Linked DNA regions of Homo sapiens. The protein of the gene in region 7 purifies or fractionates together with the protein of the main gene of each other region. This does not show direct contact. Each region holds a gene or a part of one and is shown on either strand. Other genes may lie near its edges.

Evidence for each region.
Region 1: the proteins of TAP2 (region 7) and UBAC2 purify together in Homo sapiens (affinity purification with western blotting; one study listed by BioGRID). This does not show direct contact.
Region 2: the proteins of TAP2 (region 7) and DNAJB12 purify together in Homo sapiens (affinity purification with mass spectrometry, with the first as the bait; one large-scale study listed by BioGRID). This does not show direct contact.
Region 3: the proteins of TAP2 (region 7) and POLD3 purify together in Homo sapiens (tandem affinity purification; one large-scale study listed by IntAct). This does not show direct contact.
Region 4: the proteins of TAP2 (region 7) and P3H1 purify together in Homo sapiens (co-immunoprecipitation; one large-scale study listed by IntAct). This does not show direct contact.
Region 5: the proteins of TAP2 (region 7) and ATP2A2 purify together in Homo sapiens (affinity purification with mass spectrometry, with the first as the bait; one large-scale study listed by BioGRID). This does not show direct contact.
Region 6: the proteins of TAP2 (region 7) and ATP1A1 purify together in Homo sapiens (affinity purification with mass spectrometry, with the first as the bait; one large-scale study listed by BioGRID). This does not show direct contact.

The regions. Positions count from the first base shown.
Region 1 is NC_000013.11:99,238,751-99,242,881, forward strand, and holds part of UBAC2 (ubiquitin-associated domain-containing protein 2 isoform 1 precursor), read left to right. Parts: intron 1-4,131. UniProt on the Homo sapiens protein: Restricts trafficking of FAF2 from the endoplasmic reticulum to lipid droplets.
Region 2 is NC_000010.11:72,344,812-72,348,942, forward strand, and holds part of DNAJB12 (dnaJ homolog subfamily B member 12), read right to left. Parts: intron 317-4,131; coding exon 139-316; intron 1-138. UniProt on the Homo sapiens protein: Acts as a co-chaperone with HSPA8/Hsc70; required to promote protein folding and trafficking, prevent aggregation of client proteins, and promote unfolded proteins to endoplasmic reticulum-associated degradation (ERAD) pathway.
Region 3 is NC_000011.10:74,623,414-74,627,544, forward strand, and holds part of POLD3 (DNA polymerase delta subunit 3), read left to right. Parts: intron 1-1,994; coding exon 1,995-2,160; intron 2,161-4,131. UniProt on the Homo sapiens protein: Accessory component of both the DNA polymerase delta complex and the DNA polymerase zeta complex.
Region 4 is NC_000001.11:42,760,273-42,764,403, forward strand, and holds part of P3H1 (prolyl 3-hydroxylase 1 isoform 1 precursor), read right to left. Parts: intron 2,204-4,131; coding exon 2,051-2,203; intron 1-2,050. UniProt on the Homo sapiens protein: Basement membrane-associated chondroitin sulfate proteoglycan (CSPG). Has prolyl 3-hydroxylase activity catalyzing the post-translational formation of 3-hydroxyproline in -Xaa-Pro-Gly- sequences in collagens, especially types IV and V.
Region 5 is NC_000012.12:110,343,564-110,347,694, forward strand, and holds part of ATP2A2 (sarcoplasmic/endoplasmic reticulum calcium ATPase 2), read left to right. Parts: intron 1-1,322; coding exon 1,323-1,408; intron 1,409-1,685; coding exon 1,686-1,819; intron 1,820-2,437; coding exon 2,438-2,555; intron 2,556-2,637; coding exon 2,638-2,907; 3' UTR 2,908-3,829; coding exon of another isoform or gene 3,830-3,849; 3' UTR 3,850-4,131.
Region 6 is NC_000001.11:116,382,756-116,386,886, reverse strand, and holds part of ATP1A1 (sodium/potassium-transporting ATPase subunit alpha-1), read right to left. Parts: intron 3,518-4,131; exon of another isoform or gene 3,334-3,517; intron 2,874-3,333; coding exon 2,763-2,873; intron 2,105-2,762; coding exon 2,045-2,104; intron 1-2,044. UniProt on the Homo sapiens protein: This is the catalytic component of the active enzyme, which catalyzes the hydrolysis of ATP coupled with the exchange of sodium and potassium ions across the plasma membrane.
Region 7 is NC_000006.12:32,835,733-32,840,331, reverse strand, and holds the start of TAP2 (antigen peptide transporter 2), read left to right. Parts: upstream 1-1,592; 5' UTR 1,593-1,679; intron 1,680-2,094; 5' UTR 2,095-2,098; coding exon 2,099-2,591; intron 2,592-2,680; coding exon 2,681-2,795; intron 2,796-4,558; coding exon 4,559-4,599. UniProt on the Homo sapiens protein: ABC transporter associated with antigen processing. In complex with TAP1 mediates unidirectional translocation of peptide antigens from cytosol to endoplasmic reticulum (ER) for loading onto MHC class I (MHCI) molecules.

The DNA.
Region 1 (4,131 bases), on a different chromosome or scaffold from region 7:
ATTTCCTTTTATTAGGCACATTTGTTTTCAGTTTCACTTTTTACTCAGAGAAGTGTAATTTATAACTTCAAGGGAATTAAAAACAATGTTTAATCTTTTTTTAATGCCCAGTAGGCATACTTAGCTTTGCCAAAACCTTGTCTCAATTTGAATATTTGATTAGAGGAGCTAGGCTCTGTCAGCTGTATCAGATTATGAATTTTTGATAACTTTTACAGTGGTGGTTAAACGAAGTAAGAAATTTCTCTTGAGTTTCTGCTGTGGGAAAGAGCAGAAGTGCTTTTCAAGGTTTCTGGACTGATCTTGTTGAAAATGCTAGTACTGGGTTCTTGTCTATGAATTGGAGTGTTCATGCAAATTCTGGTATATGACTGCTACCCTTTCTTTGCTAAGCACTTGGTTAGCCCATTTTAAGCATAATAATCCATTTCTTGAACACTGACACCTTTTCTTCATAGTGATATAATTAATACCATTGCTCAGATTGGCTTCACCAACTTACTGTGCAGGTCTTTTAGTTATTTATCCGTATTACTGATTTGTCAGAAGATAGTGTAGCTTCTGTATTATTTCAGTTGCTATAATGCAGTCCTTCTCAACCCCGGACACACATTAGAATCACCTGAAAAAACTTCAAAGATCTGTCTCCATATCTATACTTACGTGAAGGTATAATTTATACCTAGATTTATATAAACACAGTATCTCGCCCCAGAACAACTGAGTCACAGAGTCTGGTGGTGGCGCCTGGGCATTGCTGTACATTTAAAAACAACCCCTAGGGGATTCTAGTGTATGGCTGGCTTTGAGGACCACTAATGTAAGGGCCCCCGGGCCTTGGGTTGATACCTTCCTAATTTCTGGAGTTAATTTGGTTCGTTTGGCTAAGCCCACTCTGTGGGCATCTGTGCTTTAAAGGTGGTGACCTGCTTGGATGGAAGAAGACCACTCTTCTGTCCAGGAATGGGAATAGCCACATCCAGATTAACACTTAAAACACCTAAGAGGCTCTCAGTGTGTATTCATGAGAGATATGGGAGTTGCAGTTCTGCCTTGGGAAATCTAAACACACGCATACACATAAGAACGTGATCTGTAGGTCACAGGTGTACATGACATCCTTGGGGGGTGATCAAGGAAATAGGGACCAGTATTGGGGGCCTACCTCTGGAGAGTCTTAGGGGTGTGAGCCTTCAGTTTGGTCCAAAAAGAAGGGATGACTGTTAATTAGCAATGAAGAGAGGGAAGGGCATTTTACTTCAGGAAGTAACATGAATTTCAGACCCTTAGGAGTGTGGTACAGGAAGCGTGCTTTGAGGCAAACCCAGGCTTAGATTGGAGAAGTCCAGGAGGGCTCAGTTGATGAAGGGCTTTATTTTGTAAGTTCTGAACCTCCAGATTTTGGCAGTGAATGCAGAGGTACAGTCAGTTTTCTTTAGGTTGAGTTGCAGAAGCAGTGCTTTGCTGAGTGCAAGCCGGTAGCCAGTTACCAGTCTTTAGGGGACATTCACCTGTATAATAATATGCAGTGGTTTATTCTTATACCAGCTCTCATAGTTTTGTGTCCTTGAGTATGATTGCAACACATAAATTATTTAAAACTGTAGCTAGCAGCTTTATTTTCATTAACTGAAAAAATGGGGTTCTAGAAATGCAGTTTGTTATATCTTAGTAATTACAAACTCTCCATTTCCTTAATCCTCAGATTTTCTTAGTGGCTCTCAGAGCTTATCCCTGAGTAGAGTATTTTCATTGTAATATTAAATGTGGGGATAGAGGACTTGGAGCTGCCTCTTATGGTTTTTGAATCTGGTGTTCTGAGGAGATGACAGTCATCATCATCGGACATTGGTAAAGTCCTTGGCAGTTTCCTATGTGCTCTCGTGTACTGCCTCATTGATCATATTGATGGAGGTATATGCTGCCTAAAGTTTCAGTGTGACTCCGGTACTGTTTCTCCTTGAGCCCAGCTATGGCCTCAACACAGCCTTAGAGGCAGCCATCCCAGTTCAGCTGGGCTGGCAGGTGAGGTGAACTCTGGTGGCCAGTACAGTCATGACAAAGACTCTGCCTGGTGTCTTGCTTGGAGTAGAGACATATGTGACAGGTTTTGACAGTTGATATGCTCAGACTTCTCATTTGTATTCTTATTTCTGTTGGCAAGAGCACAGGTTGTATGACTTTACAAACTTTAGTTTCTCTGTGCCTCTTTTTCCTTAAGACAGTTGGCTGGGTGTGGTGGCTCACACCTGTCATTTCAGCACCTTGGGAGGCCAACGTTTGTGGATGGATTGCTTGAGCCCAGGAGTTCAAGACCAGCCTGGGCAACATGGCAAAACACCATCTCTACAAAAAATACAAAAATTAGACGGGTGTGGTGGTGCACACCTGTAGTCCCAGCTACTCAGGAGGCTGAGCTGCGAGTATTGATTCAGTCTCAGAGGGTTGAGCCTGCAGTGAGATGTGATCACATCACTGCACTACAGCCTGGGCAACAGAGTGAGACCCTGTCTCAAAAAAAAAAAAAAAAAAAGAAAAGAGTTACTATTACCAATGTTCGCAGCAGCATTATTCACAATAGCAAAAAGGCAGAAACCCAAATGTCTATTAACAGATACATGGATAAACAAAATGTGGTGTATACATACCATAGAATATTATTCAACTATAAATGAGAATGAGATTGATACATGCTTTACCATGAACCTTGAAAATATTATGCAAAGTGAAATGAGCAAATGCAAAAGGACAAATAAATGATCTTACTTACATGAGGTATCTAATATAAGCAAATTCATAGAGACATTAAGTAGAATAGTGTTTCCTGGGGCTAAGGGGAGAGGGAACAGGAAGTTAGCATGGCATTTCTGTCTAGGATGATGAAGAGTTCTGGAAATAGATAGTGGTGATGGGTGTACAATATTGTGAATTTGCTTAATACCACTGAATTGTATACTCAATAGTTAAAATTTTAACTTTTTTTTTTTTTCAACTTTTTTTTTTTTTATTGATCATTCTTGGGTGTTTCTCGCACAGGGGGATTTGGCAGGGTCATAGGACAATAGTGGAGGGAAGGTCAGCAGATAAACAAGTGAACAAAGGTCTCTGGTTTTCCTAGGCAGAGGACCCTGCGGCCTTCCGCAGTGTTTGTGTCCCTGGGTACTTGAGATTAGGGAGTGGTGATGACTCTTAAGGAGCATGCTGCCTTCAAGCATCTGTTTAACAAAGCACATCTTGCACCGCCCTTAATCCATTTAACCCTGAGTGGACACAGCACATGTTTCAGAGAGCACAGGGTTGGGGGTAAGGTCACAGATCAACAGGATCCCAAGGCAGAAGAATTTTTCTTAGTACAGAACAAAATGAAAAGTCTCCCATGTCTACTTCTTTCTACACAGAGACGGCAACCATCCGATTTCTCAATCTTTTCCCCACCTTTCCCCCCCTTCTATTCCACAAAACCGCCATTGTCATCATGGCCCGTTCTCAATGAGCTGCTGGGCACACCTCCCAGACGGGGTGGTGGCCGGGCAGAGGTGCCCCTCACCTCCCGGACGGGGCGGCTGGCCGGGCGGGGGGCTGACCCCCCCACCTCCCTCCCGGACGGGGCGGCTGTCCGGGCAGAGGGGCTCCTCACTTCCCAGTAGGGGCGGCCGGGCAGAGGCGCCCCTCACCTCCCAGACGGGGCGGCTGGCCGGGCGGGGGGCTGACCCCCCCACCTCCCTCCCCGACGGGGCGGCTGGCCGGGCGGGGGGCTGCCCCCCCCACCTCCCTCCCGGACGGGGCGGCTGTCCGGGCAGAGGGGCTCCTCACTTCCCAGTAGGGGCGGCCGGGCAGAGGCGCCCCTCACCTCCCAGACGGGGTGGCTGGCCAGGCGGGGGGCTGACCCCCCCACCTCCCTCCCGGACGGGGCGGCTGGCCGGGCGGGGGGCTGACCCCCCCCACCTCCCTCCCCGACGGGGCGGCTGGCCTGGCCGGGGCTGACCCCCACCTCTCTCCCGGACGGGGTGGCTGCCGGGCGGAGACGCTCCTCACTTCCCAGACGGGGTGGCTGCCGGGCGGAGGGGCTCCTCACTTCTCAGACGGGGCGGCCGGGCAGAGACGCTCCTCACCTCCCAGACGGGGCGGCGG
Region 2 (4,131 bases), on a different chromosome or scaffold from region 7:
CTTGGACCTTCTCCATCCTCCAAGACCCTCCCAGGGCCCTGTGCTGCCCACAGGCAGATGGGAGGTGGAGGACATGCTCCAGGAAGCCTCTAGATTTCCCCAGTCTCCCCAGGCTCCAGCCCCTGCCCACCCATCTACCTTTTCACAGCTGCAACCTGTTCTGCAGTGTAGCCTTTGGTGCTCTCTCCTCCAGCTTCACCGTTGGCCGAGGGGGCATCGGTCCCACCTGCTTTCCTGTGGGTGGCATGGGTTGTGTCTGTGGGTGGGGGTTGGTCACCGGCAGTCTGTGGTTTCTGGTTGAGGGACTCAATCAGGGCTGTGCAAGGCAAGGAAACCATTCAGAGCTCCTGCTCAAGCAGGCTGCGTGCCTCGCCGAGCGGCCCGCTGCTTCCCACTCACTTCCCCTCCCAGCAAAGCCACCAGCTCCTGCCCTGATTAGGCCTGTGGGTGCTGGGGGGACAGTCATCTGCTCTCTTGAAAGCCATAGTCCTTAAGAGTAGGCAGGACAGGCCGGACGTGGTGGTTCACACCTGTAATCCCAGCATTTTGGGAGGCTGAGGCAGGCAGATCACCTGAGGTCAGGAGTTTGAGACCAGCCTGGCCAATGTGGTGAAATCCCGTCTGTACTAAAAATTAAAAAATTAGCCAGATGTGGTGGCGGGCGCCTGTAATTCCAGCTACTAGGGAGGCAGAGGTTGCAGTGAGCCAAGATGGTGCCACTGCAGTCCAGCCTGGGTGACAGAGTGAGACCCTGTCTCAAAAAAAAAAAAAAAAAAAAAATCCGGGCACAGTGGCTCACGCCTGTAATCCCAGCACTTTGGGAGGCTGAGGCGGGCGGATCACCTGAGATCAGGAGTTTGTGACCAGCCCGGCCAACATGGTGAAACTCCATCTCTACTAAAAATACAAAAAAAAAAACCCCAAAAGACATTTAGCTGGAGATAGTGGTGGGCGCCTGTAATCCCAGCTACTCGAGAGACTTGAGAGGCTGAGGCATGAGAATTGCTTGAACCCAGGAGGTGGAGATTAGCAAGATTGTGCCACTGCACTCCAGCCTGGGCGACAGAGCAAGGATCTGTCTCAAAAAAAAAAAAAAAAAAAAAGTAGGCAGGATAGAGGTCTTTTTCGTTTTACATGAACAAAATTAATTTTGTTAATAAAAATTGACATAAAATTCTACATAATTCATGGATAAATCTGTAGTAATTGCTTTATTTTTCAGATAGTATACTTATACATATATCTCTTTTCTTAATAAATTTAGGCAGAATTCTGATATTCTGATAGTCTTCCAAAAGCACACTTGGTTTTATTAATAAACCCTATAGTACTTTATTTAGAGTTATTTTTTTTTATTTGTTTGTTTATTTGAGATAGAGTCTCACTCTGTTGCCCAGGCTGGAGTGCAGTGGTGCGATCTCAGCTCACTACAACCTCTACCTCCCAGGTTCAAGTGATTCTCATGCCTCAGCCTCCTGAGTAGCTGGTACTACAGGCACGTGCCACCACGCCTGGCTAATTTTTTTTTTTTTGACACGGAGTCTTGCTCTGTTGCCCAGGCTGGAGTGCAGTGGCATGATCTTAGCTCACTGCAACCTCCGCCTCCTGGGTTCAAGCAATTCTCCCGCCTCAGCCTCCCTAGTAGCTGGGATTACAGGCGCCCAGCACCATGCCCAGCTAATTTTTGTATTTTAGTAGAGATGGGATATCAACACGTTGGCCAGACTGGTCTTGAACTCCTGACCTCAAGCAATCCACCCATCTCGGCCTCCCGAAGTGCTGGGATTACAGGTGTGAGCCACCGTGCCCGGCCTAATTTTTGTATTTTTAGTAGAGATGGGGTTTCACCATGTTGGCCAGGCTGGTCTCGAACTCCTGACCTCAAGTGATCTGCCCACCTCGGGTTCCCAAAGTGCTGGGATTACAGGCATGAGCCACCGTGCCTTGCTAGAGTTCATTTAATACTACTTTAATTGCTATTTCTTTCAGTGTATTTGGTTTTACTCTGCTTTTTGCTTTTATGAATCCAACTTATGAATCCATTTTTTTCTACTGAACTCATTCAAATCTGCAAATATGTTTGCATTGCACCACATTTTGAATAAGTAAAATATTCAGTCCACTGCACTACTCCCTATTTTTACCATTGGTTTTTTTTTTTTTTCTTTTTTGAGACGGAGTCTCACTCTGTTGCCCAGGCTGGAGTGCAATGGCATGATCTCAGCTCACTGCAACCTCTGCCTCCCGGTTTCAAGCGATTCTCCCGCCTCAGCCTCCTAAGTAGCTGGAATTACAGGTGCACACCACCACGCCGGCTAATTGTATTTTTAATAGAGATGAGGTTTCACCATGTTGGCCAGGCTGGTTTCGAACTCCTGACCTCAAGTGATCCGCCTGCCTTGGCCTCCCAAAGTGCTGGGATTACAGGCATGAGCCACTGTGCCCAGTCAACCCTTCAGATTTTTAAGATCTCAAAGTAGTGAGTTTAACAGACTTGGCATGTTGAGTGCCAAGCTGGGAAAAGTACCCTGCAAAGGGGACCCCGCTTAGCAGGACCCTCTGTTTCAGGTGGGATCAGTCAGGAAGCCTTCCTGGAGGCCTTTGCTTAGCTGTAAAGAGGAATGGGGGAAATGAGTTTGCCCAAGGGGGACACAGATGGTAGGAGACCAAAAGAAGTATCTGCTGTGCTCACAACTTGCTATTTTTCACATTTTTCTAATGCAAGTGGTTGGCCATGCCAAATGTCCTCTTCAATGTCTGGAGTCTATACAGGACATTAACTATCACCCTCGGCAGCATCATGGCTATTGAAAACCAAGCCCGGCTGGGCGCTGTGGCTCACGCCTGTAATCCCAACACTTTGGGAGGCCGAGGCGGGCGAATCACAAGGTCAGGAGTTCAAGACCAGCCTGGCCAACATGGTGAAACCCCGTCTCTACTAAAATACAAAAATTAGCCGAACATGGTGGTGGGCGCTTGTAATCCCAGCTACTAGGGAGGCTGAGGCAGCAGGATGGCTTGAATCTGGGAGGCGGAGGTTGCAATGAGCCGAAATCATGCCATTGCACTCCAGCCTGGGCAATAGAATGAGACTCTGTCTCAGAAAAACAAAAACAAAAACAACCAAGCCCACCAGGCATGGTGGCTCACACCTGTAATCCCAGCACTCTGGGAGGCTGAGGCGGGCAGATCGCCTGAGGTCAGGAGTTTGAGACCAGCCTGGCCAGCATGGTGAAACCCCGTCTCTACTAAAAATACAAAAATTAGCCGGCGTGGTGGCAGGCGCCTGTAATCCCAGCTACTCGGGAGGCTGAGGCACAGAATCGCTTGAACCCGGGAGGCAGAGGTTGCAGTGAACTGAGATTGTGCCACTGCACTCCAGCCTGGGCAACAGAGCAAGACTCCATCTCAAAAAAACAAAAGCAAGCAAAAACAAGCCTGTGGTTCCTGCAGATTAAATGAGGAAGGGCCCAAGTCTCTGGCAGCAGGTCCCTGTGTCCATTTATTCCAGGCACGAAACCTCAGTCAGGCCTGGGCCCCAGCGCCCTGGGTAGTAAAATCCTAAAGCCTCTGACAAGCTGACCAGCTGGGAAAACAGGCATCTGGATCACTGCAGGGACCCAGCATCCCTCTGTGCTAAGGAAGGACAGCAGCACATCCCAGCACATTCCTTCAAACACGCCAGGTGCCTGCTGGCCTGAAGACGCCATGCTGGGTGCCACACCCACCAGTGCGACCCACTGAGGTCTGACCCAACAGGCTGAGAGCCAGTCTCACTGGGAACAGAGTATGGGGCTCCAGTGGAGCACTGTGCCCTGGGCCACTGCTGCCGCACTCCGAGCTTGTGTGATCTTGCTGAGTCTTCAACTGGGAAATCCAAACACAGGAGCTCACAGCTGGGGTTGCTCTGAGTAAGGGAGGCGGGCTCCTGTAGCAAACCCTGAGAGGGTGCTTGGGGAGGAACAATAGCAACAATCATTTTTCTTACCCAGTGATGTGTGTCAGGTGGGTACTTTCACAGTGATCTGCATTAGCTCATTTAATTGTCACAGCAGCCTTAGAAGGAAGGTCTCATTACCTACCCCACCCCACTGTAGGAAGAGGGTACTGTGGCAGACTGCTGCCATGACC
Region 3 (4,131 bases), on a different chromosome or scaffold from region 7:
GACAGAGAAAGACTCTGTCTCAAAAAATATATAAATAAATAAATAAGTAAATAAAGGTTGTCAGGGGCTGGACTGGGGTTGAGGAGGAATGCTAATGGGTTCAGGGTTTCTTTCTGGGGTGATGAAAATGCTCTAAAATTGGACAGTGATGGTGGATATACAACTAAAACGCTGAATGTAAAGTGATGAATTTTATTGTATGTGAATTATATCTCAATTTTTAAAAGTAACGCTTTATATGTAATAAAATTCAGCATTGATGACAAAATTTAAAGGTCATAATTGGTTATCTTTATTTGCTTGAAAAGGTTTCGTGTTTTCTTGAGTATAAAAAGGAAATGCTTTTAATCAGCTAGAAGATAGGTGACTTGATCATTCAGGTAACAAAAAAAGTCATTAAATTTTCCTTAATAATTGCCTTACAATGTTGCATTAAACTACCTCTTTACCAGTTAATTGGCTATTGGTAGCTGCATATATGTTTAAGTTGGAGTTCTCAAAATTCTGTGAAACCAAGACAGAAGAAACTCTGGATGCTGAATCTAATGTTTGATCAGTGGCATTTTAATTCAGATCAGTTTTCTGTAATTGGTAAACTCAATGCAATAGCCTCTCTTTCCTTAATCCATAGGTAGGTAGGAAGTATTTGGAGGTTTTTTTCTCCTAATGATGCAATTTTTAAAACAATTGCTATTAAAACAATATAATTTATGTGATAGATTGCAAAATTTGCATAAATTTTAAAGCTACACATGTGACTCCAGTGAACTGTATTTTTTGGATTGGCTGTTGACCCCTAGACCCCTGGAGATGCATGTTTACTCTTCTATACAATTTGGGATATTTGAGAGGCACTGATACTTGAGAACAACAGTTGAAAATGCAAGAGTATGCCATCGTTGGGAAGGTGGATTCCACCATTCGCATTTTCCATTCAAGTCTTCAGGAAAAAGAAAAGTATAAATAGATTGCATTTTACACTTTGGTCCATCAACTACCCTTCAAATAATACACATTATTTATAAATTATTGTACTAAGCTATGCATAATAGCCCAGACTATGATACCAATTTTTTTCTACACTGTAGATGGTTTAAGCTATTATACAACATATAACCAAAACTACTTATTGAAGCACCTCCAGCTAATGACAGCTTTCTAATAGTATTTTGTGCCTTTACTTGTGAAAAGCTATCACTAAGTACAGCGTGAAGGCTAGATGACATGCTTCTATAGTTCCTCAGATGGCTAGGCCTGTTTGCATTTCTTAGTTCTCCCTGCTGCACTGTAGTCATTCTTCAGCTTGGTGTAGGGAAAGGGTTAAGGACTTTGAGGAGTTAAACTGACTTTGGTTCAAATCCCTACTCTTTTCTGTCAGTGTTACCTGGATAAATCATTTAACCAATACTGATCTCTTTTAATCCTTATGATAATCTTGTAAATATTATCTCAGGTTTAGAAAAGACTGACTTAGATAAAATAACTTGCCCAGAGTGAAGCGGGGTTTGAACCAAACTTCTTTGACTCCAAAATAGTCTTTAAATTTTATCATTAAGGTAGTAGTGAGATATTAAGGGTATCCAGGCATTAAAAGATAGAATATATAGAAAGCAAAGGTCTTGCTGCAAATCGTTGTCACCATTTGTAAACTGTGTATTGTTGGGAAACATCTTGTAATCCTTCTGATTCTTGATTTTCCTCATCTGAAAATGAGAAGGATGATGCCTCATAAAGTTGTATGTGTTTTTTCTAAGCCTTGCTTTTACTATCATTTAGCCTGGGGGCTGTGATACAATGAGGGATTAGCAGGAGGCAGAAATGAAAAGTTACAGTTAGAGTGGTAGTTGGAAAGGAGGAATGTTTCTGAATAGTCCATGAGCTCCTTTTTGCCCCTGCTCCTAACATATTACCTGGCACATGGTAGACTGTCAAAAGAATGATGTATTAATATTGCATGATGGGGTCATATGTCGTCTGCTATACTTTATTTATAGATAAATTTAAAGTCAATTTGGACTCAGAACAAGCAGTGAAAGAAGAAAAAATAGTGGAGCAGCCTACAGTGTCTGTCACGGAACCAAAGCTGGCAACTCCTGCAGGCCTGAAAAAATCCAGCAAAAAAGCAGAGCCTGTTAAGGTGCTGCAGAAGGAAAAAAAAAGGTAGGAAAATTTTGTTGCTTATTGGGGAAGAGTCTTTACTGGGGGTGAGAAGGTCTCTTTGGGCTTATTGACAGCAGGCAGTTTTCAGTTAAGTACTAAATCCTACTTAATGCCTAAGGGATACAACTATACAACCAAAATGGAAAGAGAAGCCCAGTAGCTTATCTAGTGGAGTAGGACCGTAGGATCAGCCAGTTTGGATGATTTAAGGACCAAAGTCGTGTTTTTGGCCGTATTGATCTAAATTGATTGTTGATTTTTGTTTTAAATTTGTGGACATGGCATAAGTGTGCCTAGTTGTGTGTGTGTGTGTGTGTGTGTGTGTGTGTGTGTTTCACTTCAAATTGCCAAATGAACAGTTACTGTTTCCAGTCAAATTTAAGAGAAAAACTTCTTTGTTTTCTTTTTATATCAATGAGTTTATTTTTCAAGTGGTAAAATGTAATTAGAAAAGAAAATAAAAAGCACATAAAGCTATTAAAACTAGATCCAGGAATTGGAGACACTACCTCATAGTTGGTAGAATTAGTCTGCTGAAAGAAATTCTAAAGGACACTGTCAACACTGATAGGCCTAGAAAGACGACTTTTGTGGCAAGTTTGGGACTACTCTCGTTGAAAACATCAACAAAATGGTGAAATTTTAGAGGGTTAAAGCTCTGTCCAGTGGGCCTCACCACCTAGGAACATATGACTTGTATGGATTAAAATGTCCACAACCATGGGTACGTCACTCACTGTTGATACTTATTGCCAGCAGTGCATTCAGTATTTCACTACTAAATGTGATGATAAATGTAGATTTTTAATAGATGCCGTTAACCAGATTGAGGAAGTTGTTTTTTGTTCCAAGTCTGCTAAGAGGTTTTATCATGAGTGGGTATTGATTTTGGACAGATGCTTTTTTGAATTGATTGGATGCTCAGATGGTGTTTTTATTAATGTGGTGAATTACACTGATTTTAAAATGTTAGGCCAACCTTGTGTTCTTGGGATAAACTCCACTTGGTTATGATGTATTATCCTTTTTTATATATTGCTGGATTAGATTTGTTAATATTACACTAAGCATTTGTTGCCTGTGTTTATGAGGTCTACAGGTCAGTTACATTCTTTTCTGGTAATGTCTTTATCAAGTTGCTGTGTCAAAATTGTGCTAACTTCATAAGATTACTCATGCGCTGCATAACGATGTTTGGGTCAACAATGGGCTGCATATATGACAGTGGTCTCGTAAGATTATAATGGAGCTGAAAAATTCCCATTGCCTAGTGACATCATAGCTGTCATGACATGGTAGCGCAACACATTCCTCACGTGTTTGTGATGATGCTGGTATAAATATACCTACTGTGCTGCCAGTCATGTGAAAGTATATCATATATATTAATAGTTATATATACATAATACTTGATAATAAAAATGACTATGCTACTATAATTACTGCACTATACTTTTTATCATTTTAGAGGGTAGTCTTTCTACTTATAAAAAAAGTTGACTGTAAAATAGCCTCAGGCAGCCCTTAGGAGATATTTCAAAAGAAGGCATTGTTATCATAAGAGATGACAGCTTCATGTGTGTTACTGCCCCTGAAGAAGACCTTCCAGTGGGACAAAATGTGGAGGTGGAAGACAATGATCATTGATGATCCTGACCCTGTGTAGGCCGAGGCTAATGTGTGTTTGGGTCTTAGCTTTCAACAAAAAAAGTTTAAAAAGTAAATAAAAAATTTTTAAAATAGAAAAAGGCCTATAGAATAGGGATATAAAGAAGAAAATATTTTTGTACAGCTGTACAATTTTTTGTGTTTTAAGCTGTGTTATTACAAAAGAGCCAAAAAGTTATAAAATTGAAAATACAGTTAAAGTAAGCTGTTTATTATTGAAGAAAGAAAAACATTTTAAAATAAATTTAGTGTTGCCTGAGTATCCAGTGTTGATAAAGTCTACAGTAGTGTACAGTAACATCC
Region 4 (4,131 bases), on a different chromosome or scaffold from region 7:
CGTGCCTGGCCTAGGTTCTTGCACTTTTTTGTAGGGCTAACAGTTTTCAAATAAACACAACTTACTTTTTGTTTTGTTTTGTTTTGAGACAGAGTTTTTTTTTGAGACAGACAGCCCAGGCTGGAGGGCAGTGGCATGATCTCAGCTCACTGTAACCTCCACCTCCTGGGTTCAAGTGATTCTAGCGCCTCAGCCTCCTGAGAAGCTGGGATTACAGACATACACCACCACACCTGGTTAATTTTTGTATTTTTAGTAGAGACAGGATTTCACCATGTTGGCCAGGCTGGTCTTGAACTTCTGGCCTCAAGTGATCCACTCACCTCGGCCTCCCAAAATTCTGGGATTACAGGCATGAGCCACCACGCCCGGCCAACACAACTTACTTTTTTTTGTGTGTGTGATGGAGTCTCGCTCTGTCACCCAGGCTGGAGTGCAGTGGCACAATCTCGGCTCACTGCAACCTCCGCCTCCTGGGTTCAAGCGATTCTTCTGCCTCAGGCTCCTGAGTAGCTGGGAATACAGGCACACACCACCACGCTCAGCTAATTTTTGTATTTTTAGTAGAGACAGGGATTCACCATGTTAGGCAGGACGGTCTCAATCTCCTGACCTTGTGATCCGCCCGCCTTGGCCTTCCAAAGTGCTGGGATGACAGGTGTGACCCACTGCACCTGGCCACAACTTACTTTTAAAAGTCATTCTTTTTTTTTTTTTTTTTTTGACTGTTGCTCTGTCACCCAGGCTGGAGTGCAGTGGCACAATCTTGGCTCACTGCAACCTCCACCTTCCAGGTTCAAGCTATTCTCCTGCCTCCATGTCGAGTAGCTGGGATTACGGGTGCATGCCACCATGCCTGGCTAATTTTTGTATTTTTAGTAGAGATGGGGTTTCACCATATTGGCCAGGCTGGTCTCAAACTCCTGACCTTAAGTGATCCACCCACCTCGGCCTCCCAAAGTGCTGGGATTACAGGTGTTAGCCACTGCGCCTGGCCTATAAGTCATTCTTATATTGTTTCTAACATTCCTATTTTATAATTAAAATGTAAGGAACCATAAACTCTCTATAAAATGCTATATCATCACAGACAGTCCCTCCTTTGGAACTTTTCCTGCTAAACAAATAGAATGAGAACATTGAAGGATACTGTAACATTTATTGTAGTGAAAATCAAAAACATACATGACCAAAAAAATGTGACTAGTGAATTAATATAGTCTCTGCATAAGATGGACTATCATGCAGCCATAAACAATTATGTTTTCAAATAAAACTGAAGACATGAGAAAAGACTCATGATAATAATGTTAGTTAAAAAATGATGATGGGGCTGGCCATGGTGGCTCACACCTGCAATCCCAGCACTTTGGGAGCCCAAGGCAGTAGGATCGCTTGAGGCCAGGAGTTTGAAATCAGCCTGGGCAACACAGTGAGACCCCGTCTCTACAAAAAATAAAAACAATAGCTGGGTATGGTGGTGCATGCCTCTAGTCCCAGCTATTTGTGGGGCTGAGGCGGGAGGATCACTTGAGCCCAGGAGGTCAAGGCTGCAGTGAGCTATGATCACACCATTGCACTGCAGCCTGGACAACAAAGTGAGACCCTGCCTCAAAAAAAATAAAAAAGATGATAAAAAATGCATACATGATATAACACCAAATTAGATGAAAAAATTATATACGGAAGACTTAAAAAATAGGGCAAAATATAAACTGGTTTTCTTAAGGTGGCGGTATTACAAATGATTACTTTTTATTTTATACTTACCTACATTTCTACAATGTTATACAATGAACATTCATTACTTCTGTAATGTAATTAGAAAACAACCTTAGTAATGTCATTTAAAAAAAAACAAAAGAATGCATGCCTGTAGTCCCAACTACTCAGGAGGCCGAGACTAGAGGGTCTCTTGAGTCCGGGAATTTGAGGTTACAGTGAGCTATGATCAAGCCACTGCACTCCAGCCTGGGTGACAGAGCAAGACTCTGTCTCTAAAATAAATTTAAAAAGAAAGAAAGAAAGAAGGGGATAAAGTTTTTTTCACCATATGGGGTTGAGTCTCAAGATCCTTGAAGTCGGCCTCCTTCACTCCAGACATGGTTTGGTAATAGTCTAGGTTCTGCTGCATTTCCATGTGCTCAGGATTGCCCACGAAGAAGGTGTGTGCTGCAGCAACAGCTTTCTCCAACTTGTTGATCTAAGAATGAAGCATGAGAAGGTGGATAATGCTCACATCCAATCTCTGAACGTTTGTGTCCACATGAGCAGTCCACATAAACAGGAAATCCCTGCCTCCCTGAGCCCTCCACTCAGCGTGCCCAGCCCCTGCCAGCCCCAGGAAGCACACCTATTGCAGGAACTACCCACGACAGATTAGGAGCATAGTGCCCTGGGCAGATTTGTAGCTCTTTCCCAAGTCAGATTTAGGGGTTCCCCAGATTACAGGAAGTAGCAATGTTCCATTTTAAAACAAAGGTCATATTGTATGGGGAGTGCTGTGAAAGACTGACTGCCCACATAATATGTTTTCATGCTGGGTGCGGTGGCTCAGGTCTGTAATCCCAGCATTTTTAGAGGCCGAGGCAGGTGGATCACTTGAGCTCAGGAGTTCAAGACCAGTCTGGGCAACATGGTGAAACCCTGTCTTTACGAAAAATACAAAAATTACATGGTACTATATGCCTGTAGTCCCAGCTACTCTGCAGGCTGAGGTGGGAGGACGCTTGGGCCTGGGAAGCAGAGGTTGCAGTGAGCCAAGATGGTGCCACAGCACTCCAGCTTGGGTGACACAGCAGGACCCTGACTCAAAAAAAAAAAAATACATATATATATTTCATGAATCAAATGTAATGCCTGAGCTGAAGAAATTCTGTGGCTTCAAGGATTTAGGGGTAGAGAAAAAAGAGCAGCTAACAGACTATGCCTAAGAATTTTCCTAGAAAAAAATTTTTTTTTGCATAAAATAAAATGAAGAATTTTTGAGACATTTAGGGAAAAGGTGGATGGCTAAAAATTCTAAGGTCCTTTACTAAGTCCAGACATAGTATTTTCTGACTCAAAGCTCAGGGCTCATGAGGTTCAAACAAATAGCTCTAAGAAATCTGAGGGGGTGGTCGGGGGCGGTAGCTCATGCCTGTAATCCCAGCACTTTGGGAGGCCGAAGGGGGCAGATCTCTTGAGGTCAGGAGTTTGAGACCAGCCTGGCCAACATGGTGAAACCCCGTCTCTACTAAAAATACAAAAATTAGCTGGGCGTTGTGGCGCACACCCGTAATCCCAGCTTCTTGGGAGGCTGAAGCAGGAGAATCGCTTGAACCCGGGAGGCGGAGGTTACAGCGAGCCGAGATCACAGCACCATACTCCAGCCTGGGTGACAGAGCGAGACTCTTGTCTCAAAAAAAAAAAAAAAAAAAAAAAAAAAAGAAATCCAAGGGGGGAGAAATAGGCTACAGACCACAATGCCCACAGCAATGGACTCCAGCATGTCAAAGTAACACAGGTTTCATATATAGAATCCAACCAAATAAATCACTGATGATCTAGTAATTAACTATGTGGACACTGGTATCAAAGAGACCAGCCGTGGCCAGGCACGGGGGTTCACGCCTATAATCCCAGCACTTTGGGAGGCTGAGGCGGGCGGATCATGAGGTCAGGAGTTTGAGACCAGCGGATCATGAGGTCAGGAGTTTGAGACCAACAATAGCTGGGCGTGGTGGCATGTGCCTGTAATCCCAGCTACTCAGGAGGCTGAGGCAGGAGAATCGCTTGAACCCAGGAGGCGGAGGTTGCAGTGAGCCGAGATCGCACCATTGCACTCTAGCTTGGGCAACAAGAGCGAAACTCCGTCTCAAAAGAAAAGAGGGCTGGGTGCGGTGGCTCACGCCTGTAATCCCGCACTTTGGGAGGCCGAGGCAGGTGGATCACAAGGTCAGGAGATCCAGACCATCCTGGCCAATATGGAGAAACCCCATCTCTACTAAAAATACAAAAATTAGCCGGATGTGATGGCACGTGCCTGTAATCCCAGCTACTCGGGAGGCTGAGGTAGGGGAGTCACTTGAACCAGAAAACCAGAAGTCAGAGGTTGCAGTAAGCCAAGGTCGCCACTGCACTCCAGCCTGG
Region 5 (4,131 bases), on a different chromosome or scaffold from region 7:
CTCTTACAGTTCGATGAACTATACATCCAATTTACCAGAGTCCTTTCACAGTTAGTTCCAGTTTTAGCATCCTGCCCTTACTTGGGCTTTTCTGAATGAGCAATTAAACATCAGGGTTTTCAGATTGAGCCCTCTGTGCAAAGGGATAAGAATGATTCACGCTAGGTTCTGCCTTCCAAGAGTTCATAGGTGGGATTTAAATAGATAATTGTCACCAAGTTATAAAATTTAGTCCCTGTTTCCATAAGAGAAGGGTTGCGCAGTGGCTGGTCCCTTTTATATATAAATCATCTCTTTAGCCCTCATCTTCCTCACCCCGGGTTCTTCCCCATTTCATAGATTGGGAAAGTGAGGTGAAATCACTTCCCTGGGATCCCATAGGAAGGCATTGTGTTTTCATAATATATTCACATGACTTCAAATTCAAAAAGCACACAATGGCATAGAATGGAAAGGGTTTGGGCCAGTCACTTCCCTCTGGCGTTGAGGTGCTCATGTACCCTGTGCCCTTCCGGAGAGATTCCAGCATGCTGTGCACACCTGCATGTTGACCCTTGTCTTGCCTTCTTCCTGCTTGTCAGATCCTTCCATATCCGGACATGCGTAGTGCCTCATCCTTGCAGCCAGCGGCCTTCATGCTCCACTGTAATTCGTGGGTTAGTGGGTATATGCACTTGTTGTTTTTGATGCTACCACATGGGGATATTTGCCTCGTCTGAACTCTGTGTATTCTCTGCTGCACCTTGTTGCTTCTTTGCAATAAACTTCCTGAACTCAAAGCTAATACTGGGGGGAATCCCAGAAGCTGCTGAGGGCAGGGCCATGCTGCTCAGTGTTCCACCCTAGCTCCTGACAGCATTTCCCTAGAAAACTGCTGCTGGGCCTCTAATGGAGCAAATAAATCTGTGTACAACTAGGCAGCAATAGTTTGTCCAAAAGTCCTGGTGTAATCTAGTCCCTCAAACTGTGCAGCCTTACATGGAGTACACACACACTTGCAGCCTTGAAGTACTACCCACTGAGGGGAGAAGGCACGGCAAGGGGAAAGGTTGGCACAGGATGGAGCAAGTGCTTTTTCTCACACATTCTGGAGGAAAAGTTATCCAGTTCTTCTGTTCTAGAAACACCCCTGTCCTTCAGAAACCAGGGTCTAGTTGCTCTGGCTACCAGGCGTGAGCAGGTGGTGGTAGCACCACAGGCCCCGGTTACCATCACTGTCCCATGTCTTTGATCTTCGTCCTTGTGGGGACTGGCCTGCATGGCCTCGGTGGCAGCGAGCCCTGCAGAGGCAAGTGCATCAGCATCACTGTGTTTGTTCCCAGGTTACGTCGGCGCTGCTACCGTGGGTGCTGCTGCATGGTGGTTCATTGCTGCTGACGGTGGTCCAAGAGTGTCCTTCTACCAGCTGGTACTCAGTCACCTTTCTTTCTGTACCTTACATGAGAAGTGTTGTGAGGCCTTGACCTTTCTGTGGTTTCGGTATCTATCAAATCATCTTAAGACTCAGACAATAAACAGTTACATCTAAGATGATTCTGAAGGACCAGGGCTTCTCCGAGAAATTGGGGTAAACCTCTTGGCTGGCTCTGCATTCAGGCTGGTCTGTGCTAGGCTTGGTATGGGGTTGGAGCCTGGACTTGGGAAATATACTGGGCTGATAGGAATTTGATTGGATTTTCTTGCAGAGTCATTTCCTACAGTGTAAAGAGGACAACCCGGACTTTGAAGGCGTGGATTGTGCAATCTTTGAATCCCCATACCCGATGACAATGGCGCTCTCTGTTCTAGTAACTATAGAAATGTGTAACGCCCTCAACAGGTTAGTGCACCTTCACGGCAGGCTGAGGCGAGCATGGTGACTGCCAGGGCACCGGGGAATTGTGTGTAGTCACGGTTGATTGAGGATCACAGGACAGTTCTTCCCTTCCCAAAAGAAAGGAGAACAGGCAATACCAGTTTTAAAAGCATGAGCTGTCGTCACCTCCAGGAAGTAGTGGGAGTGCTTAGCCCTGTGTTTCTTAGGAGCTCTTCCTTAAAAGAAACCGTGGGGGCCAAAAATAGGAACTTTGGTACCCCTGTATGCCAGCACCCACAGGGAAGGAACCTCACCCTTTCACACAGACAAATGGTACCATCCAGTTAAGCCCGTGACAAAAATGGAAATTTCTAAATAGCCCAAGTCTCCAGGGCAATTGGGAACAGCTTTGAACCCACTAAGATGGGGTCTGCTATGCCAAAACATAGATACAGAATTCACAGTTTGTCCTGCATTAGGACATTCTCTTCAACTTTGCCACTGTAGAAAGTGGAGGTAGGTCAGCGGATGGTGCCACATTAACAGCCGCCTTACTGAAGTGTAGTCCAACAGGGTCTTACTGCCACTGTGACACGTGCCTTGCCTTGGGGGTGCGTTTCCCCACCTCTCCTTGCTCTGCAGCTTGTCCGAAAACCAGTCCTTGCTGAGGATGCCCCCCTGGGAGAACATCTGGCTCGTGGGCTCCATCTGCCTGTCCATGTCACTCCACTTCCTGATCCTCTATGTCGAACCCTTGCCAGTAAGTGGTTGGGTGGGGCTTGGGACCAGCCACCTCCTTCCAGGGGAGGCTGGAGGCGTGACACGTCTTCCCTGTGTGTCAGCTCATCTTCCAGATCACACCGCTGAACGTGACCCAGTGGCTGATGGTGCTGAAAATCTCCTTGCCCGTGATTCTCATGGATGAGACGCTCAAGTTTGTGGCCCGCAACTACCTGGAACCTGGTAAAGAGTGTGTGCAGCCTGCCACCAAATCCTGCTCGTTCTCGGCATGCACCGATGGGATTTCCTGGCCGTTTGTGCTGCTCATAATGCCCCTGGTGATCTGGGTCTATAGCACAGACACTAACTTTAGCGATATGTTCTGGTCTTGACTGACAGTTTTCCATAAAGAAGATGTTTAACTTAATCAATTAATTTTTTTATTGTTTAAAGCAACTGTCTATTTCTGCTGAATTTTCACATGAACATACTGGCTGGTGATGGAGGTTTCATACTCTAGATTTTGTTTTGCTTTTTCTGACTCCAGTGGGGCAAGATTTTCCTTTTTTATACACATAATTAAAGTGTCCATTGACATGTACAGAGAACTAACACTATTTTATGCAAATATTTTTTTGTAGATGAAAAAGCATGTACAGTGTTCTGTTTAATACTCATCCTTGTATAAAAAAAATAGTTGAGCCAGCAGACATTGTCAGCAAATTAATTGGCAGCAGATTTTAGGAAATGAATGTGTGTGGTTTTTTTTCTAAAACTAAATAGCATGTATTGTGTCTTTTGCATGATGATCCGGATTTAATTTGATATCACAGTCTAATTTTTATTCATAAGCCAATTTTTCTGCACTGAGCAGAGTCTTGCTACCTCAGTCAGTATTGTTTTGGTTTGCTACTTCCCTCACCCACTTTGGCCTCCGTTCACCCCACCCCACCCCACCTCTCCCCACCTTACCCCCGCCCCGCTTGGCTTCTTCTTTAGGATTGTGATGGTTCGTTCTGTTTACATCAGTTTTAACGAGAGGTATGCCTGTACTCGCTTGTGCAGAAAACATTGTTCCAGATTCAATCGACTGGGTTTATGTCCCTTCACATAGTTTTTAAGGTTATTTATTTAAATGTCTAATGTATTTTATTGTAACAGACATTGTTTTGCCAACATTGCCTATTTCAGTGGCACGTCATCTAGTTTTAAAAAAATAAAACATTTTAAATGGACAGAGAAAAATAACTGTCTTGTCTTTAACTCGTAAGTGGCTTACCTGGGACTAACAGACATGTCCAACTTTCTCTCCAGTTCTTAGCTCAGAACTTTAGTTGTACTCTGCTTGAGGGGAAGAAGGCTCCTGCTCTGCTGTGTAGGTAGTCATAGGAATTGTATTCTTAATGTACAGGCACTAATTGTCATCTGTGATGTACATTTTATGCAAGTTTCTGCTGGCCTGGTATAGAGAACATAAGGGCAAGTGTGTATGTGTGTGTATGTGTGTGTTTTGTAAAATCTGTAAATAGCACATGACCAAATGAACATATTGTATAGAACTATTTTTATTTGAATGTGGCACTAACCACCACCACCGTTACTACGATCAATGTTTG
Region 6 (4,131 bases), on a different chromosome or scaffold from region 7:
TCGGGAGGGGAAAAAAAACCCCTCTACAAACATCAAAGGAGAAAAAAACTTCCTGTAGAAATCCTTTGGGTTAACAGCCAAGTTTTAAATATACAGCTTGATTCTTTGCTTGTCTGGCAGGGAAGGGCTCACCTCCATGTGCATTTTAGCCACCTCCCAATAAACCTGTTGACTGAAAAGTACTCACTGGAAAAAACCACTCTACTAAAGCCTGCTATTTTTCTAATGGGCCTTAAACCCAAGATTCACTGACAGCAGGCAATTACATATAAGCTCTCATTAAGAGAGGAAAATATGATCACTTTTATACTCTCAAAATAACAAGTCAAAAAAAAAATAAAATATTTTTGTCTAAAGTATCTATTTATCTGTGTTTTGTGCTCATGTTACCAAACATTTGAGTGCTATCTACATGCCAGGAACTGAATTCAGTGCTTTAATTAACTTGTTTAATTCTCATGACAATCCTTTTTTAGGCATTATTAACCTCATTTTATAAGTAAAGAAATAGACCCGCAGCATTTGAGTAATGGGCATAGGTCGGAGAGAGCACACTTCATTAAGACTCTAATAAAAACTTAAGTGAGATGTGAAGTGGCTAGAGACTGCCTGGCACAAAGTAAGCACAGAGTCACTGTTGGCATGTTGTTCTGAGCTGACTCGAGGCCTCCTCTTGGAGCTTAAAGTGCTTGTGTCAAGAAAAACGCTCTCAACCTTGTTCTTCTCTCCTTTTTTTTTTTTTTTTTTTTTTTTTTTTTTTGAGATGGAGTTTCACTCTTGTTGTCCAGGCTGGAGTGCAATGGCACAACCTTGGCTCACTGCAACCTCCACCTCCCAGGTTTAAGCAGTTCTCCTGCCTCAGCCTCCCGAGTAGCTGGGATTACAGGCATGCACCACCATGCCAGGCTAATTTTGTATTTTTAGTAGAGACGGGGTTTCTCCATGTTGGTCAGGCTGGTGTCGAACTCCTGACCTCAGGTGATCCACCAGTCTCAGCCTCCCAAAGTGCTGAGATTACAGGCATGAGCCACCGCACCCGGCCTCTTCTCTACTCTTACACCCCAACAATCAACACAGAAGATGACTTCTGTGAGCAAAGGTGTGGCGGTTTCTCCCCACCACCAAGGTTTCCTCCAATTCAATTCCAACACTATCTACCTGGAAAATCAGAAAAGTGGAACAAGATTAGAGTCCTGCCTTGCGACAGGTGAAAAGGAGGGCAGGAGAGAGATCCTGTTTCTTGAAGCCTGCCACTGAGGTCTAACACACCCAACATTATAACAAACGACTGTAATAAGGGCTATGGGAGTTATGAACCAGGAACTGTGGACAAAAACCAATATATATCAGAATACCACAGTACCCATGTCTCTTGATGCCTTACTGAAAAAATGCTACATATTGGCTTGCTATTCAAGTTATTCCCAGACATTTCAGTGATTATCTGGAAATAAGACATCCCTAGACTATTTACTTTTATAACATTTGTTACACATTTAATATCAAAATCCTCTACATAACAAGGATACATAACGCCTATTTTATGAAAAGGTTTCTTTAATTTTTGTACAAAACAATTTCCAACTAAATGATAGAATAACTAAACAAATGATAGTATAACCATAACACACTGCAATGGGCTAGCTGGGAAAAGTGCAAAAATGGGAATTGTTGAAGATTCAACTAGGTGAAAGATTCAACTCTATTTAACAAATGTAGAAAAATAAAGGGAAAATTTATCATCAAAAGGTCAAGGCATAAGCATGGCTTTGAAGCCAACTGCAAGTCCTGGTGTTCCCACTTACTGGCTCTCAACTGCTATAAAATAGGGAAAAGAAAATAACATCTACTTTCAAAAAGTTTCAGGGAAAAGAAACGGTAGCATATAAATGCCCAAATTCTGTGCATGTCACATGGTAGATACGCAGATGGTGTCTGTCATTTTCTTACTAGAGCCCCTGAGGTTAGACCTGTATGTAATACAGGGGAAAATATAATACGGAAAACTAGGATTTTGTACAACAGCTTTCAAACTAGAACATACCCGGCTCAAGTCTGTTCCATATTTACGATGAAGTTCATCAAGGCTAAGTTTATGATCATCCTAAGGGAAAACAGAAACAAAGAAAATAGTTAAACAGTGTAGTATAAAAAAATGACAGAAAAAATAGCATTATTCATTACTATCATTAAGCTTATTAAACAAAGTGCAGATGTTTTCTTCAGTGCATAAGTTGGTACAATTTTCACCATCGCTTTGTGGCTTTGCAACCACACAGTTATCATTGACAGCTCTTCACTGGAGAATGGCTAAAGCTGAGTGACCGTGGCCCATTACTATTTGCCATAACACTTCAGAGAAACCCAGCAGCTCTCAGGGATCTAGTAAAACCTTATCTGCCTTCTCTGATGACCAGGTCGATTCTAGACAGGTTAAGTCTATGGAAGCTTCCATCGCCTGGAGAGGCTGAATTTCCCAATGTTTGATATAATACAGAGAAAAGCAAAGACTCATGGTATCAACCTAAGTTCCTTCTGTTATCTCTGGTTATGCCAGAGTGACTGAATAACTTTTCCTACCCTCTAACAGCTTTTAAAAAGTATATGTTCAACATTAACCTCTACGACTAGATGAGATCTGTACAGCTGCTATGATCTCTTTTAATATATAGCAGTTCTTTGAAGAATACAGTGAGGCCTGGGGGATTAAAAATCATGGATTTTTAATAAGGATGGAATACAATATTCCTCCTAGTACTTACCATAGAAACTTCTTTCTTCAGTTCATCCATGTCCCTGTCTTTTTTGCCCTTTTTGCCCTTTTTATCACCTTGTTCTGAAACAGCTGCAGGCTCATACTTATCACGTCCAACCTGTAGGAGAATGTGGGAAAAGTGAGGCCATGAATTATGAACCTCATCTGAAACTGAAAATTCTGGAGCAGGGGATTTTGGTAGTTTTTAAGGTAGTCATAATTTGGAATAGTCATTAAGATAATAGTCAGGAAAATGTATACCCATATATTGCCTACTACATAAGCAAAGCAATCTACTATTAATACATTGGCTCAAGATACATTCTCTCCATCCAAGAGCATTAAGAACAATACTGAAGCTACCGGTAGGCTTCAGAATGGCCCTGCCAGTGCCACTTCCTTTTGGGGTTAATGAGGAGATTTTTGCTATCAAAATCCCTATTCTGCAGCCTTCCATCTTCCCTACTGAAAGAATGAAACTAACTTTACATTATTAACTTAGAGTGCAATATTGTGCTTATGAGTCCGCATTCTCAATCAGACAGCCTTGAGTTAAAATCCTGGGCTTTACCACTTACCAGCAGTGTATCCTTAGGCAAGTTACTAACTTCTACATTTCAATTTCCTCTTCCACAGCGTGGAGATAAAGAATAGTGCCAACCTCATTTCATGTTTTTAAGGATTAAATGATACAATACATCTAAATGCTAGTACTTTTATACTGTTTATATTCTTTGCTTTGCAAAGACATTATTACATATCAAATTTAAATATCTTTAGTGCTCACATAAGAACACTGACCTTTACCAGCTTCCCATATTAAAAAGTCAGCCTAAGACTCCTTAAAATTCTTTGCATAAGAGATAAAAAAGGGAGCGCCCAGCCCATTCTGTAGCCTGAAAATAAAACCTCCAAAATGAAAGTCTCTGGAAATGTTTTGACATAAGCAGGATGTAGGAAAAGCGTGTGCATTATCACATAATTCACAGGATCCACCTACGCCTCTTGAAAACTGGAACAATTTTTAAAGAAAATGTTGATTCTATAGTTTAAATTTAGATTGTTCCACTCCCCCACCCCTGTTGAAAAATCCTTGAGCTTATCTACACAAAGCCTGAACTTGGTGCTCCAAAGCTTAGCGGAGCAGAAGAGCCCCTTGTTCCAGACACCTCCCCCTGAAGCAGCCTCCCACAACTACAACTTAAGGCCAAAAAGTAGACATTAGCAATTTTCTTAAAATGCATGACATATGGTGCTATTACTATTATTTTGTGGTTCTCCTTTACTCATTTCTAACTTTCCTAAGTGCATTACCAGCTACTAAAGCAATAATTAGGAACTCGTGTCCAGATTATAATTTCACTGTGCTGAAATGA
Region 7 (4,599 bases):
ATTTATCCCAAATAACACTTTGGAGATATTGGATATTGAATATAAAGACAGACATTAAGGGTCTAATTTCATGATGTGTCATGCTGAATTGCAAGATGGCAGGACTATAATTTTAGAGGAAGAAGAGATCAGGAGGACTCCCCTAAGTGAGGAGTGTGGGGAAAATGTAAAAGATCCAGGTTAGAAGAAAGAGACACACATCATGAGATTTTCGGAATCATGCTGGAACTATGGACCATGTCACTTTCCAGAAAATAAAGGAAACAAATGCTTGAAAGTAGGAGCATGAGCTTGAGCATGGAGCTTTTTTCATTAGAGAGAGATTCTTAAAATGCCAGAATGAATAGAGTTGTAAAACTTTAGCGAGCCCCTACTTAAAATCCCTCCTCCCCACCACCACTATTTTAAACTTTAAGTGACTCCTTGGTAGTCACACAGGTAACATTTCAAAATGGTGATCTGGAATCCAAGCGACCCTTCCTTTGGGGAATTTGTTTGTTTGTTTGTTTTTAGTTTGGGAGGTGGTTTCAATCTGAAGAGTCCTTTCTGGAATAAACGAATCTTTCTGTTGCATAGGAAGGCTCTGGGTCAGGAAGGATATTTAAAAACCTAATTACTGTTCTAAACAGTGTTAAAATAGAACAAGAACCAAAGCTCAGTACGGGGCATTTCCCTCATAGGCTGAAGGTGCGCCCAACATAATTTGGAGTACAGACTCAGAGGCACCTGAACACGCGCCAGCTCAAGGTGCTCCGGCTGAGAAGGACGGATGAAGATGAACGCTCAGGGCCTACTAAATTCAAAGTCTGTACGTGAAAATCCCCTTTGGCCTGGTGAGATTGGTTGGAACCTTCTATTTAGGAGAGCCCGGCTCGCTCGCCTAAAACTGGAGCTTGCATGGAAGAGGGCACTTTTTTTTTTTTTAGACGAAGTCTCACTCTTGTCGCCCAGGCTGGAGTGCAATGACCCGATCTCGGCTCACTGAAACCTCTGCCTCCTGAGTTCAAGCGATTCCCCTGCCTCAGCCTCCCGAGTAGCTGGGATTACAGGCGTCCGCCACCACGCCCTGGCTAATTTTTGTATTTTTAGTAGAGACAGGGTTTCACCATGTTGGCCAGGCTGGTCTCGAACCCCTGACCTCAGGCGATCCGCCCGCCTCGGCCTCCCAAAGTGCTGTGATTACAGGCGTGAGCCACCGCGCCGGACCAGAAAGAAGGCACTTCTTAATAGTAGGCTCAGAGCTTGAAGTAGTAACTTTGAGAAAATTCAGTGATTCTCCAATTACAAAGCATTCTCCAATTACAAAGCAAGGACAACAGATAAAGTTGCCCTTGAGACAACTGTATTTTACTTAATGATAAAGAAACATTTTTGCAGTTTTATATCCCAGAGTAACCGCCACTAAAGGCGAGTGAGACTCATTGCAGGCCTGTACAGTGCGAACCAGAGTTCGGGCTCCAGTTCCGCTGTCTGCGGGTCTCGCGCGCCCCCTCCCGGCGGCCCAGCCCAGAATGAAGGCCTTGGCTGGGGAAGCGAAAGCGAAAGCTGCCCGAGCCCTGACGCCCGCCCTGGCCGAGCGTAGCTGGCGGACCAGAGCCGGTAGCGAGGTTGGGAGAGACGGAGCGGACCTCAGCGCTGAAGCAGAAGTCCCCGGAGCTGCGGTCTCCCCGCCGCGGCTGGTGAGTTGGTGCGGAGGGGAACCTGGAGCGCCAACAGGGACGCAGCCCAAGTGACTACCCACTCCACGCTCCTGCTTCCCAGTCCCTCTGCACCCGGCGATAGGAGGGAGCGGAGCCCGGACCACTTAGCTCGCCGCGGCAGGCGGGGGTGGGGGTGGGGGTCCGGGGATTTTTTTTTTTTTTTTTTAAGCACGAGGCTCCTGATGGTCATGCTTCCAGCTCCCCAGAAGGCCGAAAGCTGTCTGTCGTAGGAGGGGTGTACGGATGAGCACCGGTTACTCAGGAGAGCTCTCAGGGTTGAATAGGATAAAATGAGAAGCCGATGGACGGGTTAGGCGGAGCCGGGCGGGTAGGAGGGCAGGGACAAGGATTGGGACTCCACCCCCATGATTTCTCATCTCGTATCCGTTGACAGAGCCATGCGGCTCCCTGACCTGAGACCCTGGACCTCCCTGCTGCTGGTGGACGCGGCTTTACTGTGGCTGCTTCAGGGCCCTCTGGGGACTTTGCTTCCTCAAGGGCTGCCAGGACTATGGCTGGAGGGGACCCTGCGGCTGGGAGGGCTGTGGGGGCTGCTAAAGCTAAGAGGGCTGCTGGGATTTGTGGGGACACTGCTGCTCCCGCTCTGTCTGGCCACCCCCCTGACTGTCTCCCTGAGAGCCCTGGTCGCGGGGGCCTCACGTGCTCCCCCAGCCAGAGTCGCTTCAGCCCCTTGGAGCTGGCTGCTGGTGGGGTACGGGGCTGCGGGGCTCAGCTGGTCACTGTGGGCTGTTCTGAGCCCTCCTGGAGCCCAGGAGAAGGAGCAGGACCAGGTGAACAACAAAGTCTTGATGTGGAGGCTGCTGAAGCTCTCCAGGCCGGACCTGCCTCTCCTCGTTGCCGCCTTCTTCTTCCTTGTCCTTGCTGTTTTGGGTGAGTCAGGAGAGGACGTTGTGAGTTGGAGGTGGTAAAAGGGCCTGGGCACCAGCACATTCTTGTGTTATTTTTCATGCCTCTTTCAGGTGAGACATTAATCCCTCACTATTCTGGTCGTGTGATTGACATCCTGGGAGGTGATTTTGACCCCCATGCCTTTGCCAGTGCCATCTTCTTCATGTGCCTCTTCTCCTTTGGCAGGTAGGTGGTGGGCAGCTGGGTCCATTTGCTAGCCCCAAATCTTTATAGGGGTCTTCACTTCCCTAACTCCATTTCTAGGCCCTTTCAGGCGCAAAACACAAAAATACTTAAACTAAAATATGGTGAATGTAGTCACCATTCTGTTTCATCTATCCATTCATTTCTTCCTTCGTTCATATTCATCCAATATCTTCAAAGTTTATCTGATCTTATTATAGGAACAAGTTATGAGTGAAGGTAGTACAAAAGGAATTTAAGTCTCAGATGGAATGTCTCTCAGTTGTCTCTCAACATTCCTAGGTCCATGAAATTCCATTTCTTTCTGCCTCCTACCTCCTACCCCTAAGTCTGTCTCCAAAGTATCTCTCCAGGGTCACTCCCTCAGGATGGGTATGCTTCTCCCTTTCACTCTTCTTTCCCAGCTCATCTTGCCAGTCCCTGAAGATCTTACTCTGAGGCTTATCACCTTTCTTTCCAGAATCATTACTCTTTTCCCTTCACTTGCTTTCCTTTCTCTTTCTAGACATACTCAAACAAACAAACTGTTTGATAAGGCTGGGACTGGGATGAGGTGAGCGAGGCACCTGGGGTGCAAAGTTTAAGGAGGTGTGCACTCACCTTACCCAAATCCCAGCCGGCCTGATTGTCTCTATTTTTATGGTCATACTTAATTTAGAGTACCCTCGAAAACCATTTCATTGTGCCTTCATTCCATCCTGGCTGCTTTCTGCTGAAACTACAGTCGTGCACTGCATAACGAAGTTTAGGTCAATGATGGGCCACATATAAGATGGTGGACCCACAAGATTATAATACCATATTTTTACTGTACCTTTTCTATGTTTAGATACACAAATACTTACTTCTGTGTTACAGTCGCCCACAGTGTTAGGTGCAGTTATATGTTGTACAGATTTGTAGCCTAGGAGCAATAGGCTAAACTACATGGCCTAGGTGTGCAGTAGGCTATGACATCTAGGTTTGTGTAAGTACACTCTATGATGTTCATACAACGATGAAACCATCTAACGACACATTTCTCAGAACACATCCCTGTCATTAAAGTACAAACCCTCATTATATCATGTCTGACTCTCCCAAACGCCTCTTCAATATGGTAACTAAATTTGTATTAGAAACATATATTTTGTAAAATACATGCTTTTATGCTTTATATTTTTTCCTCTAAGTGTTACTGTAGCATGTAGTTGGTCTAAGAGGGATTTTCCAACTCGAAGGATGAAAGATGGGAATCACATGACTCTGGGGCTCCAGAGAATTGTGGGGGCAGGGAATTTATTATTGCAGTTCCCATGATGAAGTATCTATGATGACAGAGAAGGGCTTTGGGTATGGGGCAGGAAGGAGACCAAGGCGGAGGAGACGCACAGAGGGACAAGCCTGAGGGACGCTGGGACAGAAGCAAGCACTGGGATACTTGTTTTCACAATATCTTTTCCCTTCTATTGTAGTTTTCTATTGTGTCTAGTACAGAGTGCACTCCATAAATACTTGTAAATTTGTACATGTTATGATTTTGTTCTCACATCTAGCTCACCATGTCTCCTCTTTCTTCTTCCTCTGTGTATTCCTTACCTCTTCTCTCTCTGTGTGTCTGTCTCTCATTTCTTTCTCTTTTGCCCCTCCTGGCATGCTTTCCCCTGACTTTGCGCTTCTCTGCACTCCTGGCTTGCTCCTCTGTTTCACCCGCTGGCTTGCTCCTTCTCTGCATCTCCCTCCCCTCTTATTCTCCTACCCCACAGCTCACTGTCTGCAGGCTGCCGAGGAGGCTGCTTCACCTACA